Homo sapiens: one gene and its partner. The protein of the gene in region 1 purifies or fractionates together with the protein of each later gene. This does not show direct contact. Each region holds a gene or a part of one and is shown on either strand. Other genes may lie near its edges. The genes, in order: MTHFS and PLCL2.

Region 1 (8,825 bases):
TTGCCTCTGCCTGGAATAATTTTCCGCCATAAGTTCGCCTGCCTTCCCTCTTCTTTTCGCCCAGGTATCCCTTCCAAGGAATTCTTCTCCTCAGAGAAGTCTTCCTTGATCAACCCATCTAAGAAAGTACCACTATCACTCTCTGTCTCCCTGCCCAACTTTATTGCCTTCATAATAGTTTTCATGACTGGACATCCCATTGCATATTTATTTGCTTATCTGTTTATTGTCTGTGTCTGCCATGAGAATGTGAGCTTAGTGAGGACACGGATCCTGTATGCTTTGTTCACCACTGTGTTTCCAGTACTTTAACTGATACTGGCATGTGGCCAATGCTCAGTGAATATTTCCTGAGTGAACAAAGGAATAGTCTTTAGAGAAGTGAGAAAGCATGATACTTGCCTGTATCTTTTTTTTTTTTCCCCATACAAAGTCTTGCACTGCCACCCAGGCTGGAGTACAGTGGTGTGATCATGGCCCACTGCAGCCTTGACTTACCAGGCTCAAACAATTCTACCAACCCAGCCTCCCAAAGTGCTAGGATTACAGGCATGAGCCACTGTGCCTGGCTGCCTGTATCTTTAAAAATTCTGAGGTTCTGATTTTCTTTAGATTACTGATACTGTATATTATTTTATGCTTTAGGTTTTGTTGAAACCAAGGTAGCTGAATTTAACAAACTATCACTGTTCCCAGAAATAATAAGGCCTGAACAATTCTTATTTACTACTGCATTACTGATAGGATATTGAATCCTTATTTGTATATTTATTTTTATATAATGGTCTTAAGATACAAATAGCATCATTAAAGAAAATATATTTGAAAATAACATTTTTGAAAGGAAGAAAAGTCACTCCCATCACCCTAACATATCCACATGCAGACATTGTATGCAATTATAATTAGGGTGTACATAAGAGTTTTTTGGTGTGACATACAAATATTTTCAACACTGTCTCACATACTCCATGTTAACATTAGGCATTAATTTCTAATGTCTACAGAATAGTTCATTAATTTGCCATATCATAATTTACTTAACCAATTCCCAATTGTTAGACAATTTGGTTTTGATTTTCCCCCTTTTATTTATTTATTTATTTTTTGAGACAGAGTCTCACTCTGTCATCCAGGCTGTAGTGCAGTGGCTTGATCTTGGCTCACTGCAACCTTCACCTCCCAGGTTCAAGCAATTCTCCTGCCTCAGCCTCCTCAGTAGCTGGGATTACAGGCATGTACCACCACACCCAGCTAATTTTTGAATTTTTAGTAGAGACAGAGTTTCACCACATTGGCCAGGCTGGTCTCGAACTCCTGACCTCAAGTGATCTCCCCACCTCAGCCTCCCAAAGTGCTGGGTTTATAGTTCTGAGCCACTTCGCCCAGCCTGGTTTTCCCCTTTTAGATATAATGGTTCAGTAGTGAAGCATAGGTATGCTTTTCTGGTGCCCCCTACCTTCCAATATTTTAGAAGACTGCCTCATGATAAATTTCTAACAGTGGAGTAACTGGTTCATAAGATGTGTGTATAATTACGATATTCTAGCATACTGGAAAACATATTTTCTTTTCGAAAGTATTATATCAATAGAACAATATCATAGCAACCTTATCAGTGTGGGTGGTACTATTAATAATTTTGAGGGTTTAATAGGCATCAAATAAAGCCACTTTAATAGGTCTAAAAAAAATAAGACTTTGTTAAAATGTACATTTCTTTAACTGCTATTAATGTTTTTCTCATATACTTGTGAATGATTTATATTTCTCTGTTTAATGGTCTCTCCTTTTTAAACTATTAAGGGCCTGAGAATTTTCTCTCACATTTGAATGAACACTTTCATGGTATATGTAAATATTTTCCTAGTTTATTGTTCTTTTTAGTTTTTCATAGTTAAAAAAATTTTTAATCTTCATCTGGCTGAATTTATCAATATTTTCTTTGTTCACTGTCCTTTCTTTAGACGTTGATGTATATGACATGTTAACTGATCAATGATAATAGACAATGATTATCGTTATAATAAAAGTCATTTCAGAGGGTCTCATCATACTTGCGAAATATGGTGTTTAGGAAGGGGCGTAATGAAGTGGATACCTCCCTAGAGTGTAATCTATGAGTATGTACTGGCAGAAGGGAAAGAGGAAGAAGAGGGGCAGTTTCCTTCCTCTGTCAAGGCATGACAGCATGTCTCAGAGCACGACGCACACTTACGTAGGCAGAAAATGGCTTTCTAAGTCTTTCAAATGAAATCCCCCTGGCTGGTGGTATTCATCTGCTTTGCCAGTGATGTTCATAAAATGATTCCAAGGCACCGCAGAGCTCTCGAATCTCTCCCAACTATCAAAGGGTTATGCTTGGTTTACGTTTCAATATTAGTTACACTTTGCTCTGAGCTACTTGCAGGCATTTGTAACCCCAGGTTCTGGAACCTGTAAGATGCAGCCACAAATGTTTGCTAGATGAACATTCGAAAAAATTATTTTAACAATTTTCGAATATTTTGGCACTTGTTTGGAAATGTATGGAGTGGAAAGAAGTAGGGTATTTGCATTCTAATCCAGGTCCAGGCACCAAGGGTTTGGCTAATCTTAGATAACTGATTTTTTTTGTGGGCCTCACTTTCCTCATTTGTTAAGAGAGAGCATTAGGCTAGATGATCTCAGAGGGACTTTTCAGTGAGGATTCTATGATTATAGATTGTAAATTAAATAAAATGTCCAGTTAATTGGGTTATCCTACATTTTTAAAACTATGTCCGATCACAAAGAGAGTAGATTATAAAAGAAACCATCAACCTTTTCATAGCTTCAAAGGTATTGGTTTAATTTGGATTTACTGTGAGTTCTCATGAGTTTCAATACAATGCAGTTTACAGTATAATAGAATTCATATTACAAATATAAGTGCATTGAAATCAATGTTGGACAATTAAACAAGAACAAGAACAAAAAGACTTTTTATCCTCTAGAGCTGTGCTTGCTGTTCACTATGGTAGTAAAATGTGGCTAGTCTGAATTAAGATACGCTGTAAGTACTAAATACTCATGAGATTTTGAAGGTTTGTTATGAAAAAAACTATCTCATTAGTGATTTGACATTGATTACATACAGAAATCATTATCACTAAATATATCTTAAAAATTAATTTTTCCTATTTTTGTACTTTTTAAAATGTGGCTACCAAAAATTAAAATTACAGATGTAGGCCACACTGTGTTTCTGTTACACAATGCTCCTTTAGAGGGATAGAAGATTATTTGCATTATTTAAATGAAAATATTTTTGCTTTTTATTCCAGCATACTTAATCTCCAATGATTTTTAAAATGTTAAATTTATTCTCTCATAGGAAAATGGCTTTGTAAAGAAGCTTGAGCCTAAATCTGGCTGGATGACTTTTCTAGAAGTTACAGGAAAGATCTGTGAAATGCTCTTCTGTCCTGAAGCAATACTGTTGACCAGAAAGGACACTCCATATTGTGAAACCGGCCTAATTTTTCTGACTCTTACGAAAACGATTGCCAACACATACTTCTACTTTTAAATAAACAACTTTGATGATGTAACTTGACCTTCCAGAGTTACAGAAATTTTGTCCCTATTTAATGAATAAATTGTATGTATTTTTCTCTATATGCCATTTTTGTCTTCAGTTTTGGAGTCTGGCTGGAAATTCAGCCAAAGGGTAAAAGCTCAACACAGGATCCAGGCAATTAATTATGGGATGATGACCAGGAAGGCGGTGTCTTTTCTGCCCCAGGCAGACTTTTAAGGTGTGCCATTACCCCAAAAGTCCTTTTCTGTGTCACTAGGCTAGACTGCAGACTAGACTGAGAAGCGGACTCAGGCTAGAAGCAGACTCAGGTCGGCTTCCCTCTTCCCTCCTTCCTTCCCATGCTTTCTGCAGTTTCCAGTGCCCCTGGCTGCTTAAGAGTTTCCATTGATGCCTCCTCCCCAGCCTTCTCTCTCTGGCTTGCCATTTGGGGTTGATGGATATGGCAACCTGATATGCAGGATACTCTGGGATATTCTGAACAAAGAAAATTGGTAAATGATTCAACGTGGAGCTAGTGTTAATTTTAATTTTTATTTTTTGGTAAAAATGAACAGATTAGAAAAGTACGTAGTTTGTTAGACCTCGTGTTCTAACTTTTAGGTCAGCAAATCTAATTGCACTATGTATACGCTGTACCTGCCTGGCCTTCCCTTTTTCTTACAACACAGTCCCCCTGGGACTTGCATTAGCTTTCCCTGGAAGCTGTTGATAGATTCCATAAAGAAGCCAGAACTCCCCTCTCAAGCCATGTGCATTCTCACCGGGCACTTAATTAATGCTTTACCTAGGAGGTGTGATTCTTAACGGTGGGGATTAAGACACTGGGGCGGTCAGTAGGGACGTATTTTTGGCAGAGACAGCTCTGGTTTTCTTAGGAAGTCACATCTGAGAGGCAACCGTCTATGCCATCTGAGGCGCCTGTCTACTGGGAGCAGTTTAAGACTTAACAGTTTCTTTTACCTCTTCCTGCAAGTGCCTCACCCACCCCCCAACTGCTTTTAGTTTTAATTCATTTTTGTGTTTTAATCAGAGCTGAGTGGTGGGAATGAACAGTCACTGATGGTTATAACAGGAAGTACCTATGTGGGCACTATTACCTGGAATACATTCACACTAGAAACCCGCAAAATTTGGCTTTTACACTACAGTTATTGCTTTAGCAGTGTTCCCGATTATGTATCATCTATACATTCATCACATAAGGACATTTCCATCAACCACTGTGGTCCCTTAAGATTATAATGGAGCTGAAAAATTCCTAATACCTACTGATGTGGTAGCCAACCAACACATTACCTTTTCTGTGTTTAGATACACAAGTATCACGGTGCTTACAATTGCCTACAGTATTCGGTACAAAATACGCTGTACAGGTGTGTAGCATAGGTGTGTAGTAACTTTGTGTAACTACACTCTGATGTTTGCACAAGAAGGAAATCGGGGCATCTGTCAGACCTATCCCTGTAGTTAAGCGACTCGTGACGATTTCGCTACATGTCCTGCCTTGCCCTTCTTTTCTGGCCCCTGAAGTCCCACTACTGAACAGTACAAGAGATGCCAGGCACCGTGGGTACTGCCGGCCATCTTTACCATCCCCGCCAGTGGCGCTGCCGCCTCCGCGGTCCCGGTGAGGGCCCAGGCTCAGGGAGGTCAGGCGGCAGGGCAGCGACGGCGCCTCGCCACCGCTCCCCTAACCGGGGAGGGCGAGCCGGACCACGGGGACCGCACGAGGGCTGGGTCCCAAGGGCCAGAGGCGAGGTAAGCGCGCGGCGCGCCGCGGGCCCGCGTCCCGGAAGCGGGGTGGGGGCGCTTCCCCGAGCCCCGACCCGCCCCTAGGCCGCGGATCCACCTGGGAGCGGCCAGGGGCGGAGACCGAACCCGAGGGCGCCCAGGGCGCCGAGGGCGGGACTGGACTCGGCTTGGGCGTGAGATGGCGGCGGCAGCGGTGAGCAGCGCCAAGCGGAGCCTGCGGGGAGAGCTGAAGCAGCGTCTGCGGGCGATGAGTGCCGAGGAGCGGCTACGCCAGTCCCGCGTACTGAGCCAGAAGGTGCGAGGCCGCCCGTAGCGGAAGCCGCGGCGGACAGACCCTCCGAAGGCCTGGCGGCCAGCGATTGCTGATCTGTGCATGGTCCGTGCTGGCGCTGGGCTAGGCGCCCCCCCACCCCCCGGCGCGCGCACGTTTCCCCTCCCGGCGCGCGCACGCCCCCTAGTCGTGGTCTGGACGCTCTTGGCACTATGGCGGGGAGAGGGCCCGGTAGTGAAAGTTGTGGGGCTAAAGAGCGAGAGGACGGCAGGGGTTGACAGATTTATCTCTGGGAGGGGAGTTTGTTTGCATGGGTGGCTCTTTTGGTGCTCGAAAACCCTCCGTGGGGATGACGGTGCTGTGGTGAGAGCACGGTGAGAACAGAAAGTTGTGGTAGAGGAGATGGGTGAACACCTGAGTGCCCAGGTTCCCTCAGTGAGGCCTAAAGTTAATGAGCTACGAGTAAGACTCCGGTTATATTAGTAAAATGGCCAGAGAAAGATGCAGGTGCTTTAGACGAGGGAACACCAAAAAAGGTGTGGAGATGCCAAAGGGCAGAACTCAGAGGTTGACTGGACTTCACTAAGCATATGGAGGGCTAAGGCTGTGTCTCAGTAGCTCCAGGGCCTAGGCTTTTCCTGTCTCAGAGTTGGTCAACATTAAATGCTTTTTCTTGAGTGAACGAAAGGAAGACTTGGCTATCATATCCAGGCTTCCCAAGAACGTAGGAAACAGAAGAGAGAAATGAGAGGAATAAGTGAGGGTCCGTGTTTGTTGGTTAGCAGACCTCTGTTTCATTACTTTCACCAACTGCACTGCTATGTATTTTTAGTCTATGTAATGTCAGTTTTCTTATCAATAAAATGGCAGTCATATCCTGTTGTGAAGGCATGTTCTAAAGAGTTTTTGGGGACTCATTTTTGTTAGACACCAGAGGAAGAAAAATTTAATGTCCCCTGAATAAGTACGTATTTGTAATTCTGTTGTAAGTCAAACTGATGATCTGTCTTCCCAGCATCATGCTTCAGAGACACCAGATATTTGGAAACTTGATGTTCCTTGGAATTAGTTATACCATCAGGCTTTCTTAATTACCCTTCACTATTCTATTATCCGTTATTTACTCAAATTCAAGGTGCCTATGGGTTAAAGCAGTAAAGCATATATGCTCATTTCACCCCTCTCTTCATCTATGTAGGTGTGTATGAGGGAATCTATACAGATGTTAATTCGTTCGTTCAAACAGAATTATTTTAGCTATTATGAGGAAGCATTGCTGGGTGTTTTAGTAGATGTAAAGGATATAGACTCTTGTCCTTACTATCTAGTTGTTTAAAATTTAGCTAATTCATTCACATATGTTGAACACCTATGTAGTGCACACTTGGCTATATACTGGGTTGTGGAGATGAAAAAGATATGATTGTTGCTCTAAAGGAGCAGAGAGCCTAGAAGAGGAAACAGACATGAATAAAGAATTGCATTGAAGCCAGATATATGATAAAGGTAAACACCAATGTTGTGGAAACATAGCCTTGGGGAGGGGAAATTGGAAAGCTTTCTATTGGAAAATGTTTGAGATGAATTTCGGAGAACAAGATGAATTCTTTCAGGTGAAGGGAAAGATGGGATAGGGGAGTGTGAGTAGGGATATTTAGGCAAGAGATGACAGGATACAGTTTAGCATGGGCTTTGGAACTGCACAGATCTGGGCTGAATCTGGCGCCATTGTTTTTTAACTGTATATCCTTGGACAGGTCTCATAATCTCTCAGAACCTTTGGTTCCTTGTCTATAAAATGGATAATATCACTCTTGTAGGTCGATTGTGAGAGTTAAAGAAGTGTGTAAAGGGATGTATTCAGAGCTTTACCTATTGTTTGTTATGTCCTTTAGGAAGAGTATAATGGCAGCATTTGGATAATGGGTTGAGGAAGGAAGAAAGAAAAAAAATATGGAGACCAGTAAGGGGCTGTTGTGCCAATTCAAGTGAAAGATGAAAAATATGCAAACCAGAGCATGGGCAGTGAAGATGAGGGGAAAGGAGGCAAATGGGAGACTGTTAAGTGAGAAACAGCAGGACTTGGCAACTGATTGGAAGAGGTTAGAGAATACTGGAAGGGGAGGAGAGTCACCAGTGATTCCAAAATTTAGAGCTTGGTATAATGGTGTTTAGCCTTAGGCATAAAGAAGGTAGGAATTGGAACAAATTTTGGAGGGGCATGGGGAAAATAAAGATGAATTCAGTTTCTAATCTTCTACGTTGTCTTTCTCCGTAGAAGATTAGAATTCATAAACTATAGATGGAAATAGTTTACATAGATACAGAGTCACTGACAGCAATAGAATGACGACTGAGAGCTGGCATTAAAGGAGGAGAGAGAAAAATTAAAAAGCAGACCCATGACCCTCAGTAATAAATACATTTTACTCTGTACAAACAAATATACACATACAAGGAACATTTTACAGCTCTTAAGCACATACAATGAAATTTAATATTTTCTTTTTTTTTCAAGACAGAGTCTTGCTCTGTCGCCCAGGCTGGAGTGCGGTGGCATGATCTCGGCTCACTGCAACCTCTGCCTCCCACGTTCAAGCGATTCTCCTGCCTCAGCCTCCCAAGTAGCTGGGATTACAGGCACGTGCCGCCATGCTCAGCTAATTTTTCTATTTTTAGTAGAGACGGGGTTTCACCATGTTGGCCAGGGTGGTCTCGAACTCGACCTCGTGATCTTCCCGCCTCTGCCTCCCAAAGTGCTGGGATTACAGGCGTGAGCCACTGTGCCTGGCTCGAACTTTAATATTTTCTATTCTATTTCATTTAAAAATTGTAGCCCACTATTGATTTCATGACTAACCAATGGATCATCACTGGAAACATCAGTGTACTGTGTAGTGTTTTGCCATAGTGAATGCTCAATAAAGGTGTTAAATGATGTCTTTCATTTAGAAAAGCGTATTTATTCTTATTGGCACTGTACCTTTTTATAACTTAGAAATTTATCAGAGAAGTAATTTAAATGGTAAAGAAATTCAGGTTTATGTCATATCTTGATTCCCTAAGATGAGGAAATTAGTGCCCCTTTACTCACTGTGTTTTCTACTCCCTCTGTCAGTTTCTGACATTTATATTGTTATATTTATGTTGTCAAGTTTTGTAATTTTTCTTTTTCTTTTTCCTTTTTTTTTTTTTTTTGAGAGGGAGTCTCGCTCTGTTGCCCAGGCTGTTATGCAGTGG
Region 2 (8,430 bases), on another chromosome or scaffold:
GAGCTGGCCTTCTATGAACACTTACTAAGTGCTAAGCCATACTAGGCATATTTATTACACATTACTTCCATTTAATCCACACAGCAAGCCATGTTATGGATGAGAAGACTGAGCCTTAGCTATAATCCTTCTCTGTTTGTCTAGCGTCACACAGCTAGTAAGTGAAGGAGTCAAGATTTTACCTGAAAGCTGCTGATGTTAAGGCCCATGCTTTGAGTCACCGTGAGTAATAACAGGCCAATTATAATCATAATAAGAGTCAGGTGGGCTATTTCAGGCACACTTGGGTCCTGGTCTAGGCCGGGCATGCGGGCAGAGGGGGTGGACCTAGGCCCTGCAGGCCTGTGCCTTCTGCTCTCAAATAATGCAGGTTCTTGGGAATGAACACTTTAGTTTTAAATTTAAACATTTCATTTTTATTAATATTGCTTTAAATATGGACATCAAACTATAGATCATTGGCTCAAATCACTTTGATATTGACAGTTACAGAAATCAATCATGACTGTGATATTTAAAGTGCAGTTCCCCAGTCACTCTTATTACACCACTTACTCATACCTGCAGTTGTTCTATTTGTTTATCTGCCTGCCTCCTGTCTGTTTCCCCTTCCCACTGCCTGCCCCCAACTAGCATGCAAGCCCCTTAAAGGCAGGCAGTCAATCTGTTTGTTCACCACTGCATCTTCATGGCCTAGATTGCTTGTGCATGGCAGGTGCTCATTCAGTATCACTACCGACTGCTTTGTCAGGTTCAGTGCAGATGAGGCTTTGGAAAAGACAATGCTTGAGCTCTGACAAATCCTCAAAGGAATTCTGTGTCACACACACCACAGCAGCCACTGGGCAGTGGACAATGCGCTTGCTCAGAGCTGAGGGTTTACCAAACCACTTTCACCCTCAAAAACAGGGAAAAGCCCTTCATATGTCTGTTATGCTTTTACTTTAAGAGAAAGAAAACAAATTTCCTTATTGTGGGAAGGTCTTTTATTCACGAAGTACACATAGAATTAGTTGATAGGGAAAAAACGTTGAATTTTCTCAGTCAGATTTTATTTGTTGGCATCATTCTCATTGGTCATTTTAAAATATAATTTTTAAAATACAAAATAAACAGACATGGAGCACTTATCACACACACACCACTTCTCACACACTATGACAGGTTAGGGCTGCTGTCTGCATGAGGCAGGCCCTTGCTGTCTAGCTCTGTGTCACTCAGGGGTCCTAGCGTATGGCTAGATGTGTGGGCGATCCTTAATTAAATATGTAATTCCTAACTGACTGCTTTTAGCCATTATATATTTCAGAGGTAATTATTATCTTAAACTTCTAATAAATACAGACATCTCTTTTACTTACAGAATTAGCTATCCTCTCAAATCAAAAGGAGGCTCACTATGCATACACATATATTTATGGCTCATTTAAAGGTTTCCCATCTCCTCAGCATTACAGCTTCGTAAGAAAGGACTGGATCACATCCATTTTACTTTGACCTATATCCTTTTTATTTTGATAGATCATCAATTTGTGTTCCAGGTAAGGAATATTCAGAAATCCCAGAGATTCCCATGTATACTATTAGAAAAAAACAAGGAACTGTTCAGCAGTCATTAACAGGGACTGGGATGAAGGTGTGTAACACAGCAACGAGACTCACTTATCCCAATATGTAATCAATATTTTCAACATCAACTGTACCTTTAGGAAGTTAAATGATAAAAAACAGACTAGTGGCAAACATTCTAAGAACTAATCAGAATTTAAAAACTACTTAAATATACTATTATTAAAAAACCAATATATTTATAAACTATGGACATGTACAAAGTAGGAAAACCATTGAGTAAATGATTAAACACAAGCACGCACCTGCATGTTTTCTCTCAGATCTGTGGCATCCCGTATAGGGGGCTGGGCATTCTTGAATACCTCATCCACGGTTTTAATCCACAGTGTTCTCAAAGATGCATATTCCCTGGATTTCTTCCCTTTTCTCACAGAAAGGCCCCTTTTATGAGGCTTTCCTCCTCCTCTTCGGTTAGTAATAGCCACGTGGACAAATAAAGAAGCATGTGCAAGGACCTCTCCAGTTAAGGACTGCAGGGGGACATGGCGGTAGCCCGTCTGTAAACATTCAAAGGGAATTGTGTACTGGCCGATGAATTCATCCCCAATGTAGTCATCATCCAGCACTACAAAGCGCACCATGGCCAGTTCAGGCAGGTTGATTTGAAATTCAAAGCTTTCATCAAAAATGGGAGCGTCTCCATTCTGGTGCACTGTTTTTGTCCTTTGTTCTGCACAATCAGCAGGGATTCCATGGATTTCAACATAGACATAAGGATCTACCACATCACCTTTGGCACCTGATCCTTTGGGCTTGGGAAAGTTCTGCCCACTGATGATTTTAATGTGAAGAAGTTGAGGTGAGACCCCTGGGACAGAGTCTTTTGTATTGGCGCTGAAGAAGGAGACCTCCTCCCTCATGATGGCTGGCCGGAGGACATAGCCACAGTTTCCGTTCTGCCTAAACCAGCCAATATTCAGGTCCATCATCAGTCCTGGTGTCTGAAAGTTCATGGCTACAATTTGGCAACCACATTTCCAAAAATCTTGAGGATTCATGTTACTGGAATCAATTCTCATTGGACTGGGAAAAACCCTAGCAAGAAAACGTTTGTTGTAATTTACAAAGTCCCCTGGATTTTCATTGGCGTACTTGCTGGCAAGCACTTCATTAAAGGAACAGACTTCCCAGTACTTCTGAACCTGAAACGACACCTGAAATTCTTTGAACTGAACTGATTTGCAGATGCTGACCAGTTCAGACAGTTCTTTACAAAGCTGAAATCGCTTCACAGGCACATTATTGGGTTGCTCCATGTTCTCTTTTCCCATCCTCTGAGACATTTCTGCTCCTTCATCTTCGTCAGTAACATCTCCTTCTACCCCAGAGCAATTTGAGGACAGCTTCTTTGCTTTAATTAGTATTTTCCCTTTCAGGACATCTGGGGATGGTAGATAAGATTCCTCAACATTGGGTGATGTTGTATAGAGCTTGTCTCCTAAAAGTTTCTTCATGTGCTGAACCATTACCTTCTGTTGTTTAATGGAACAGTGGTTTTCTAAACACAAGATAAGAGGATACTCTGAAGCAAAGAATGCATACTTGTTAATAATATCAATGACACTGCGGAAAACTATCTGAGAGGTCATGGTGTGGCCTGTGTAAATTACAGGTTCATTGTCCGGCCCATCCCATACATCTAATTCAACACTCCGGCAACCCATTTTAAGAGCTCGAATATATCCTGTGATGTCGGAGGGACCTCGGAACTGATCCTCTATTAAGTATGTATTATGAGATGAGTTTATAAAGTAATGAGACAGAGGTTGCTTCATATCCTGACAGACCTTCTTATGTTCTGGATCGAATATATAACAGTCAGGTGACATAAGGTAATTAGTGAACCCGTCTATGGAGAGCCAGCCCTTTTCCTGACCCTCTTTGGATGGTTCATATTTGTGAATAATTTCAAGGCTTATTTCCTCATTTATATGTGCCACACCCTGTTCTGCCTCAAGAAACATCATAAGGTCCTTGGTATCAAGGAATTCTTTATTGCTTGAAAACTGAACTAAAAGGAAATAAATTTCAGGTCTAGTACAAAGCTCATGAAAAACCTCAATAAATTCTTCCTTTGTGACCTCGGTACCAGCTTTGTCCTTTGATTTATGCAATTCTTTGAACTTAAGCTCAATTTTGCTCGTTTTTAAACCAGGATTGAGGTTTCTGATACATTGCACAGCATTACACAGAGTTATATGTCCAAGGTTATCTACATCAATTTCACTAAACATTTGTGAAACCCAAGAAGTCCTCATGTTATCTTGGCTACTTTCTAACATATCAAGTGTATGTTTTCCATAAGAAATTAGGTACCGCAGTCCTGTAACCCAGATGTTTGCAACATCTGCGGAGTTGGCAACCAAATCCAGTGACTCATAATTCTCTCCATATATGACGGAAAACGCACAATCTTCAGATATCTGGTCAGAAATGCCATTGCTGCGGAATATGTCTGTGTTTTTTCCTGTTCTCACTTCCTTGATGGATTTAATGTCAATCTTGGCTTTCTCAGAATCCTTCTTAGATGGCTCCCACCTTAGGCTCTGCATGTCAGCATCCAGTAAAAAGTACCTATGATAAATTCTAGAGTTGGAGCGAACCTTTTTGAGTTCTGAACCCTCAACCATTGAATTAATACAATCACTTGCACTGCTGATCTTCTTCTCTGTTGGCATGCTGCTGAATGAGACTGTCTTTTTCCGTTCCCTCTTCTGTTTTGTACCATCCTGAGAGGAAAAAAAGACCGTATATTAGAATAACATAAATATAGGTTTCTATGTTCAAGATTATGAATAGAAATTTAATTTCCTAGAAAAAAATCATACTATTAAGATTTCCTATTCTAGATTCCTGTGATGAATGATACTCATTCATCTCTAAAGCTCAGAATTGGCCTTGCAGTTGACAGCCTAATACCAACAGGTATGAAATCATTATTGAATAATTGCAATTCATATTTATCAAGAAGAACAATTTCAGGCCAGGGACGGAGGTTCACACCTATAAACTCAGCACTTTGGGAGGCTAAGGCAGGAGGATTGCTTGAGGTGAGGAGTTTGAGACCAACCTGGGTAATACAGTGAGATCCCATCTCTACAAAAAAAAATTTTTTTTGGCCGGGCATGGTGGCTCATGCCTGTAATCCCAGCACTTTGGGAGGCCAAGAAGGGGCAGATCACCCAAGGTCAGAAGTTTGAGACCAGCCTGGCCAACGTGCTGAAACCCTGTCTCTACTAAAAATACAAAAATTAGCCGGGCATGGTGGCGGGTGCCTGTAATCCCACCTACTCGGGAGGCTGAGGCAGGAGAATCGTTTGAATCCGTGAGGCAAAGGTTGCAGTGAGCTGAGATTGTGTCACTGCACTCCAGCCTGGGCAACAGAGTGAGAATCCGTCTCAAAAAAAAAAAAAATTAATTAGCCAGATATGGTGGCTCATGCCTGTAGTCCTAGCTATTCAGGGGGCTGAGATGGGAAGATTGCTTGAGCCCAGGAGATTGAGGCTGCAATGAGCTATGATCTTGCCACAGCACTCCAATGTGGACAACAGAACAAGATCCTGTCTCAAAAAATAGAAAGAAAGAAACAATTTTCAGAGCCCAGAGAAAAGTGAAAATGCAGGATTCCCTGATTAAAAATTATTAAGAATTTCAAGGTGACAGAGGAGCTAAGTGAAGCCCAGGGCTCTTCTGAGTCAGTGTGAAGCCTGTGCAACTGTACAGGTCATACACCATGAAACAGGCCCTGTTTCTACGTACGCCTCCTACACCAATACTTCTCAAAGGCTTGTCACCAGACCACCTGCCTCAGAATCATCTGGGTTACCTGGTTACAATGCAGATTGCTAGGCCCATGGAACCAGCTCCCTGGGGCTGGTGCCCAGGAATTTACATCAAGGTAGCACTCCATGTGACGGAGGATGTACACTAAAGTTTAAAAACCATTTCCTGACTACTTGGGCTAAGACGTCTAGACTATTTCTGGAAACTATTTGCACCAAATGATGAGAAACAGCTAAGTAGAAACCAATTAAGTAACTGTTAAATGGGAATTCCAGCAGAAATTCCTCTCTCCAAAGTCTCATACTAGATCAGTCATCAGTATACATCAGATAGACATGTAAGTCTGAGATGAAGGGCTAGATTATAGCTGTTGGAGCTCCTAAAATCGTAGAGTTGGATTTATTAAAACCTATTACTATGCCCCAATGCTCAGAACAATGTCACCTTGTACCTTAATATTAATAGATTATTAAAAGGACTAAGTTTAAAACTTCAGGCAGCACTTATTTCTAAAGAAGTTAGCATCACCAGTAAGGCACTGTTCAACTTTCCTGCTTAAGGTAACATGTTCTCATCTTAAGGGGCTGACATCCACATCTGTGTGTGTATTTAAGTCCTTCCTTGTATGGAGACCTTTATTATTTGAAAAGAGTGCTCAAATTACCTCAAAAGATCTTTCACAATTTTAAACCTAAAAGATGATACTGCCTTTCAGTATGTGTATAAAATCTATGACAAATTTTCAGTATTCATTGTATTTATAAATAAGAAATAGGGATGGGAGTTGGAATTATATCACTTTCATGACAAAGAAAAGAACATTGTTGAATATTATCCAAAGGCAATTCTAATTTTCCTGCTCTGGATAGAAAATATCTGTATTTTAAAAAGCTATTATGCTATACTCTATCTCTGAAATTTAAAACCACTTTTACTTTCTAACTACCTATACTTCCAAAAGCAATTTGCAGAAGGTAATTAAACTTAAACTTTAAATCATATGGGTATCATTTTCCTCAAAGTTTCAAAATGAACCATAGAAGCTTTTGTGATCTGGGTGCCAAGACAAAACATAAAAGCCACAAGGTAGAATATTTCTTTACAATTATATCCTCAGAACAATAAAGTGCAAAATACATAAAAACTGTGGTAATTGTATCTGTAAGATACATTATATTAAAGCCATTTCAAATCCCTAAAGCATAGATTGTATTACATCAATTTGAGTGAGTTAGCATGAAATTAGTTTTGTAATCAGCCATGCATAAGGACATGAAACAAATGTATAATTTTCTATTTTTCAGAATGACGTCTTTAGTTTTTTTTTCCCAGTAGAGACGGGGTTTCACCATGTTAGCCAGGATGGTCTCGATCTCCTGACCTCGTGATCCGTCTGCGTCAGCCTCCCAAAGTGCTAGGATTACAGGTGTGAGCCACCACGCCTGACCGATGTCTTTAGTTTTTAAAAGACGCATTTACCTTTGATAAAGACAACATACTGACTCAGTTAGGGAATTTTATAATCTTTATATATCGTGTCTCAAAGATGACACTAGTAGAACAATTACAAAAATATATGGATGTGGTTTATCCACTGATCCATTAAGAAATATATAGTATTTTCCCAACATTGTAATCTTTTATTCTTTCATTTTTACAGGCTGATTAATATTCTGTTACACTTTCTAATTTGTTATAAATGATACATTTCAGATAAACAGGTTTCTTTTTTATTAAGAGGGAAAAGGCCTAATAGCAAAGTAAGTTAATAACATACACACATGCTCACATACCCATGTATGTGGAACAGGCAGCAGCTTAAACACCACACTGTGGCTTTAAGAACATTGCCATGCTTTTCACAAACCAGCCCAGGCTTTGAATGGAGACTTCTGGTTATCAATTGCAGACACATGAACATGATGACCACCCAACCACGGGCAGATATAATGACATCAAGGACACCCCTTAGCAGAGACTTCCTGTCTCTTCCTCTCCCTCCATCTGCTGTTGCCTAGAACTGTCTCCATAGCACACCAAGGCCTGAATCTGCTTCTCCTTCCTCACTAGCAGATAAAGTGATCAGAAAACACCAATAGAGGAGTATGCTTGTTTAGAGACCAATAAGGAAGAGAACAGATGTGAGCTTGCACTCCTTAATGGGTGGACCAGAATCTCTGGCTGGGAGCAACAAGTGGATGTGAATACAGGAGAAGCTGGCGAAATGGTCTTCCACAGTCAGCAGAAAAGGAAGGGGAGGACAGAAGCACTTGTGTGGGAGGGAAGGAGAACTGGTGTTCAATGGCAGGAGACTGAGCCCCAAATTGCCTAATTCCTGGAATCCTTATCCCACTCTTACTCATTTCAACTTGTCTTTCATTGTTCAGCCTGGCAGTGATCAAATACTTGCCTAAGCTAAGTAGCTGGTCAGAAGCAGAGAGCTGGGATCTATTGTTTATGCTGCCTTGTAATGCAAGTTAGTTTAAACTAAATAATGAAGATTATTCAACCTACATGTGCTATACATATACCTTTTTAACTGGAAGAACATTAAATGCATAATACTCACATGCATTAACCATCTAAAACCAGAGGAAAAAATGCAGGTTTCTGCTGAGACACTTGTGCCTCAAAATACTTTTAAAAAATAGTATAAACTATTTCTCAGAATTGGCTGTTATACTGTGAAGGAGTACTCATCACCCAAAGCTTCTGAGTGGTGAATACAACAGAAGGGAAACTTGGTGCAATTCTGCTACTCTATTAGAACTTAGTAACCTCAAGAGAAAGAATACACAAACAATGTCCGGACTGCAAGAAAACCGGCTTCCAAAGAACCTACCTCCATATCAACCCTGAAATTTTGCATTTCTTGACAATCTTAAAATTTAGAACTAGAAAGAAACAAAGGTTCATTTGTACATTAGCCAACAGAATAACAATTTCATACCGGGAATGATTTTAGATAAAGCAATGAACTAGAAAGAGACTAGGGAAACATTCTGCACCACAGCA

Evidence for each region.
Region 2: the proteins of MTHFS (region 1) and PLCL2 purify together in Homo sapiens (affinity purification with mass spectrometry; 2 studies listed by BioGRID and IntAct, with this or other methods). This does not show direct contact.

The regions. Positions count from the first base shown.
Region 1 is NC_000015.10:79,893,656-79,902,480, reverse strand, and holds the start of MTHFS (5-formyltetrahydrofolate cyclo-ligase), read left to right. Parts: upstream 1-5,466; 5' UTR 5,467-5,492; coding exon 5,493-5,609; exon of another isoform or gene 5,610-5,690; intron 5,691-8,825. UniProt on the Homo sapiens protein: Contributes to tetrahydrofolate metabolism. Helps regulate carbon flow through the folate-dependent one-carbon metabolic network that supplies carbon for the biosynthesis of purines, thymidine and amino acids.
Region 2 is NC_000003.12:17,005,605-17,014,034, reverse strand, and holds part of PLCL2 (inactive phospholipase C-like protein 2), read right to left. Parts: intron 4,362-8,430; coding exon 1,875-4,361; intron 1-1,874. UniProt on the Homo sapiens protein: May play an role in the regulation of Ins(1,4,5)P3 around the endoplasmic reticulum.